Regions from separate parts of the Homo sapiens genome. Here region 2 is linked to region 1. The links come from fine-mapping of genetic effects on gene expression. Tissue or cell type: subcutaneous fat. Region 1 holds a variant in brackets; the other region holds the start of a gene. All regions are shown on one strand. Distances are from middle to middle.

What was found. PIP is the estimated chance that this variant, and not a neighbour inherited with it, causes the effect.
Region 2: it holds the start of PSMG3-AS1, and the variant in region 1 is fine-mapped to the expression of PSMG3-AS1 in subcutaneous fat (GTEx, PIP 0.98).

The regions. Positions count from the first base shown.
Region 1 is chr7:1,588,559-1,591,312 of GRCh38, forward strand. It overlaps PSMG3-AS1 (PSMG3 antisense RNA 1), which reads left to right. Exons shown (of 5, transcript NR_027329.1): 5 at 1-1,068. Among named protein-coding and RNA genes, the nearest start is that of PSMG3-AS1, 20 kb to the left of the region's middle. The variant A/AC (reference allele first, on the strand shown) is at 1,534.
Region 2 is chr7:1,568,895-1,571,648 of GRCh38, forward strand. It overlaps PSMG3-AS1 (PSMG3 antisense RNA 1), which reads left to right and starts at 1,179. Exons shown (of 5, transcript NR_027329.1): 1 at 1,179-1,385. PSMG3 (proteasome assembly chaperone 3) reads right to left here and starts at 1,138. Exons shown (of 2, transcript NM_032302.4): 1 at 230-1,138. The coding sequence starts at 445. RefSeq lists silencers at 810-1,239, 1,680-1,759 and enhancers at 868-1,436, 2,060-2,129, 2,140-2,189.

The DNA.
Region 1 (2,754 bases):
CCGGCTCCAGTGGCGAGGCAGGAAATGAGGGGTGAACTCCTCCTCCCTCTGCTGTCTGTTCTATTCAAGTTCTTGAGGGATTGGATTATGCCCAGCCACTTGGGGAGGGCAGTCCACCTTCCTGAGTCCACAATTCAAATGCTGATCTAATCCAGAAACACTCTCACAGACACAGTGTGTAGTCTGGGCACCCCACAGTGCACTTAAGTGGACACATAAAATTAACCATCCCAGGGAGTGAGATGGGTAAGGGAAGATGGGCCACAGTGGGTGTGTCTCCATGCCTACCCCCACTGTGGGCAGCTGCTGGAGCACACGCCTCAAAGTCTTCCCTGAGGGAGAGGGAGCTGAGGTGTTTATATCCCAGCTCTGTCAGGCATTGGCTGAATGTCCACACTCCTGGATCACCGCCTCTCATCCTCATGATGTCCCATGGTCCTCATTTCACAAGTGAGCTCTGGGTACATGGGGAGCATCAGTCACACCCTGGGTCAGTACCTCAGCTGTCTCTCACATGACATCCTCATTATCCACACTGCAAAGCCAACCATCCCTATGATGGGTTCATTGTGGATCATGACTTAGTGGGTCAAGAGTTTGGAAGTGGCTCAGCTGGGCGGTTCTTCTGCTCCATGTGGCTGCCAGATGGTACCCTGCTGGTGGGCAGTCTGGTCTAGAGGGTCCATGATGGCTTTACTCACATGCCTGGCATCTTGACAGGGACAGCTGGAAGGCAAGGTTCAGCTGGGACTGTCCACAGAGCTCCTCCCTGTGGCCTTTCCAGCATGGTGGTCTCAGGGTAGCTGGACTTCCTGCATGACAGCTCAGGGCTCCCAGAGCTACTGTCCCAAGAGATAGAAGGTGGAAACTGCCAGTCTCTTAGGCTAGGACCAGAAACCAGCACCCCTGCACCCACAGCCTTTTGGTAGTGATGAAATAAACATAAGATTTATCATTTTAATCATTCGTAAGTGGGATTAAATACATTTACAATATTGTGTAACCATCGGCACTGTCTATATCTAAAACTTTTTCATCATCTGCAATAAAAACTCTGTATGCATTAAACCATAACTCTCCATCCTTCTGCCCCTCTTGCCGCTGGTACCCACCATTTTGCTCTACCTCTATGAACAAGGCCATTTCAGACACTTCACATAAGCAGAATCATACAGTATCAGTTTTTTGGCAATTGGCTTATTTCACTTTACATAATGTCCTCGAGTTTCATCCACATTGCAGCACATGACGGCACCTCATTTCCTTTTAAAAATTTTTTATTTATTTATTTTTTATTTATTTATTTTTGAGAATGAGTTTTGCTCTTGTCACCCACCTGGAGTGCAATGGAGCAATCTCAGCTCACTGCAACCTCTACCTCCTGGGTTCAAGCGATTCTCCTCCTTCAGCCTCCTGAGTAGCTGGGATCACAGGCATCCACCAACACACCCAGCTAATTTTTGTATTTTTAGTAGAGGCGGGGTTTCACCATGTTGGCCAGGCTGGTCTTGAACTCCTGACCTCAGGCAGGTG[A/AC]TCCCCCCCGCCTTGGCCTCCCAAAGTGCTGGGATTATAGGCGTGAGCCACTGTGCCCAGCCTTCATTCCTTTTGAAGGCTGAGTAATGCTCCACTGTGTGGAAGGACCACGTTTTGTGTATCCATTCATCGGTCCACGACACTTGGGCTGCTTTCCCCTTTTGGCTGTTGGGGACGGTGCTGCTGTGAACGCGGGTGAACAAATGACTCAGTCCCCACATGCTCTTGATGGAGCCCGGAGCCCACAGATTCAACGGGAGGGGGAACAGCTTCCTCTCAATGGGAGGGGGGCAAAGAATTTGCAGTCTTTTTTCTGTTCATTTGTTTGTTTGTAGACAGGGTCTTGCTCTGTCACCCAGGCTGGAGTGCAGTGGCACCATCAAAGCTCACTGCAGTCTCAACCATCTGGGCTTAAGCGATCCTCCCACTTCAGCCTCCAGAGTAGTTGGGACTACAGGTGCATGCCACCAAGCCTGGCTAATTTTAATGTTTTTGTAGCAAAGGGATCTGGAGATGCTGCCTAGGCTGATCTCAAACTCCTGGACTCAAGGGATTTTCCCACCCCGGCCTCTCAAAGTTGTTGGGATTACAGGTGTGAGTCACCTTTAATTCCCTGCACCGTGCTAGACAGAGATTGCTGAAGACTGTGTTCCCGGGGCCACATAGCAAATCTGCCAAATGGCAGAGGAAAGGGGAGATAGGGGCCCGGGGTCTGGAGAAATGAGGCTGGGTCTGGGGAAGACAGGTCAGAGGCAGCGTGGCTGGGAGATGCAGCTGGGAGAAGTGGAAGGAGAGGGTGGGCGTGGAGGCTTCCGGAGAGGGGTGGGCATGTATCATCCCTCAGGAGTGGAGAGACTTGGGTTGGGTTCAGAGAAAACCAGGCTGGGGAGAACTTGAGAGCCCAGGCGTGAAGGCTGATGTGTGTCTGGGCTTCACCGCCCTGAGCTGTGTGGTCAGGAGCCATCACTGAAACTCTCAAACATCCTCTTTTATAAGATGGGAATAATAATAGGACCCCTTCAAAGGGCGTCGAGGGAATTCAGAGGGAAAGTCTGTGCATACCTCTGACCTGGCTGTGATATTCATTTTAGGAGTCAACTTGACTGGGGTAAGTGGCGCCTAGAGAGCTGGTAAAAAACATCACTTCTGGGCGTGTCTGTGAGGCTGTAATGGCCAGCCGGGTGGGTCCAAGCTCTCTTCAGCAGTCCCCGGGGCTGGCAG
Region 2 (2,754 bases), 20 kb before region 1:
GCCTCAGCCTCCCAAAGTGCTGGGATTACAGGTGTGAGCCACTGCACCCAGCCTCTCTCTATATATATATTTTGTGTAGGCACTTGTTTTTTTGTAGTGACTTGTGTGTGTGTTGTTGTGTTGCCCAGGCTGGTTTCAAACTCCTGGCCTCAAGCGATCTGCCCGCCTAGGCCTCTGAAAGTGCTAGGGTTACAGGCGTGAGCCACAGTTCCCGGCCAATCCACTTTACCTCATCCTGCCCCAGAAGGACTTTTGTGGTGAGCACAGGCTTGCTGACGTCACTGGCCACGCTGCTGGGCTCCAGGGAGACCAGGGTGCCCATCTTCCCAAACTGGGTCACCACCACCAGGATGTGACTGCTGAAGGCCGTACACACCACCTGGGTGGGGACCCCGCACACCACCTCCGTCTTCTGCTTCGATATCACCAACGGCGTGTCTTCCATGGCGGGGCTCTGCAGTGGCAGCTTTAATTTAGGTTAAAAAGAAAGGGGAAAAAAAGGAGTCAATCAAACAGTACAGCCTTGGGGCTCCCAAAAAAGTAGCACGGGGCATTGAAACGGAAACGCAAGGAGGCCCATTCAAAAGAAGGGGCCAGGCGCGGTGGCTCATGCCTGTCATCCCGGCACTTTGGGAGGCCGAGACAGGACGATCGTTGAGGCCAGGAATTCGAGACCAGCCTGGCCAACATAGCGAGACCCCCATCTCTACCAAAAAAAAAAAAAAAAAAAACCAGCAGGGCGCGCCTGTGGTCCCAGTTACTCAGGAGGCTGAGGCGGGAAGATCGCTTCAGCCCGGGAGGTCGAGGCTGCGGTGAGCCGTGATCACACCATTGCATTACAACCCGGGCGGTAGAGCGAGACCCTGTCCGTAAAAAAATAAAACAGAAGCAGGAGCGGGGCCGCCCATAGAGACCGCGCCTGGGGCTTTCTGGGTTAGGGGATCGACTTGCACGTTCACACTGCCAGGCCGGGCAGTGGCTTCCCGCCCCTCGGCCTCGCCGCCGCCCCGGCCCTGCAGCCGCGGCCCGGGACCCCCACGACACGCGGTGCCGAGGCCGGCCGGGCTACTGGGGACGCAGCCGCCCGGGGAAGCCCGCGGGTACCCGCGCTCACCAAGCCGGCGCCGCGCCCGGAAGTGGCTCTGCGTGCGCCACGCGGGCCCGCCCCGTCCGCGGGTTCCGTCCACCTTCCGGAAGTCAGGGCCGCGGCGCTTCTGGTCCCGGAGACTTGGGGCTCCCGGGCTTCTGAGCGGCTCGGGTTCCGCGCTGCCGGCAGGGCTTGGGGGCGCCTTAGAGCCGAACCCCGTTTTTTCAGGAAAGGGCGCTGCGACCACCCCCGTCCCGGGCCTCAGCCCCTCTGCTGCAGACCCTCGGGATCGTCGCTGGTAGGAGCTCTGTCCCCCGTGTCTGTGTCCAGGACCCCCGAAGCGCCGCGCCTAGGAACCCCCTAGCGCTGGGAGCCCGGCCCTGCTCGACCACGGGCTTTGGGCTGGAGGCGTCATCGTCGCCACAGCGAACGCTTATTTGGCACCGAGTGTCCGCCAGGCATCGCTCTAAGCGCTTTATACCCATAACTCACTTCATCTCAGCCACCCGGTTCCGTAGAAGCGTTTCATCCGCGTTTTACAGACGTGTGCAGGTGCAGAGAGCTCGGCCAGGCTCAGGCGGCGGGCGGGCTGGGGTGGGCTCCGACCGTCCCTCGGGCGCTCCGTGACACGAAGCCCCGGCCAAGGCCAAGAAGGGGGCCAGCCCCACCCTGAAGCGGGATGAGTTCTGGTTCCTCCCAGGGACCCCCTCACTCCCTACTGCTCACTCTCAGTTTCTCCAAGCTGGAAGGTTTTTTGTTTTGTTTTGTTTGAGACGGAGTCTTGCTGTGTCACCCAGGCTGGAGTGCAGTGGCGCGATCTCGGCTCACTGCAGCCTCCGCCTCCCTGGTTCAAGCAATTCTCCTGCCTCAGCCTCCTGTGTAGCTGGGATTACAGGCGTGCGCCACCAGGCCCGGCTAACTTTTTAAATTTTTAGTAGAGATGGGGTTTCACCATGTCGGTCAGGCTGGTCTTGAACTCCTGACCTCAGGTGATCTGCCTTCCTCGGCCTCCCAAAGTGCTGGGATTACAGGCGTGAGCCACCGCGCCCCGCTGCTGGAAGTTTTATTGGTAGGGTCGGACATCTTGGTAGCAGAGGCTGAAAGTGATTGGAGCCTCCAGAGCCTTCCTCGGGGTGGGGCGTTTAACATCCCTTCAGAACCCCACCCTCGGAGGCCTTACTGTCGTTTCCTGACAACCATGTCAAGGCCGTATTTTCTGTCTATATTACCAGAAAGGGGTCCCGATCCAGACCCCAAGAGAGAATTGAGGGCGAGTCCACAAAGTGAAAGCAAGTTTATTAGAAAAGTAAAGGAATTGAGGCAGGAAAACAGGGTCTGGAGGCAGGGAACACTTCAGCTATGACAGGAAATACCCTCTCCATAGGGTGTACACTGAGTAAATGATTTTGTAACTTTATTTCATCCTCTTTATTTACATAGGGCGTACACCAAGTAACCAGTAGAAACCCCTAGAGGGTATTTAAACCTCACAAGTTCTGTAATGGGGCCCTGAGCCTCTATGCTTTGGCCGCCCCCACACCATGGAATGTACTTTCATTTTCAAAAAATTTCTGCTTTTGTTGCTTCATTCTTTTTTTGCTTTGTGCATTTTTTTTTTTTTGAGACAGAGTCTCTGTTGTCCATGCTGGAGTGCAGTGGCGTGATCC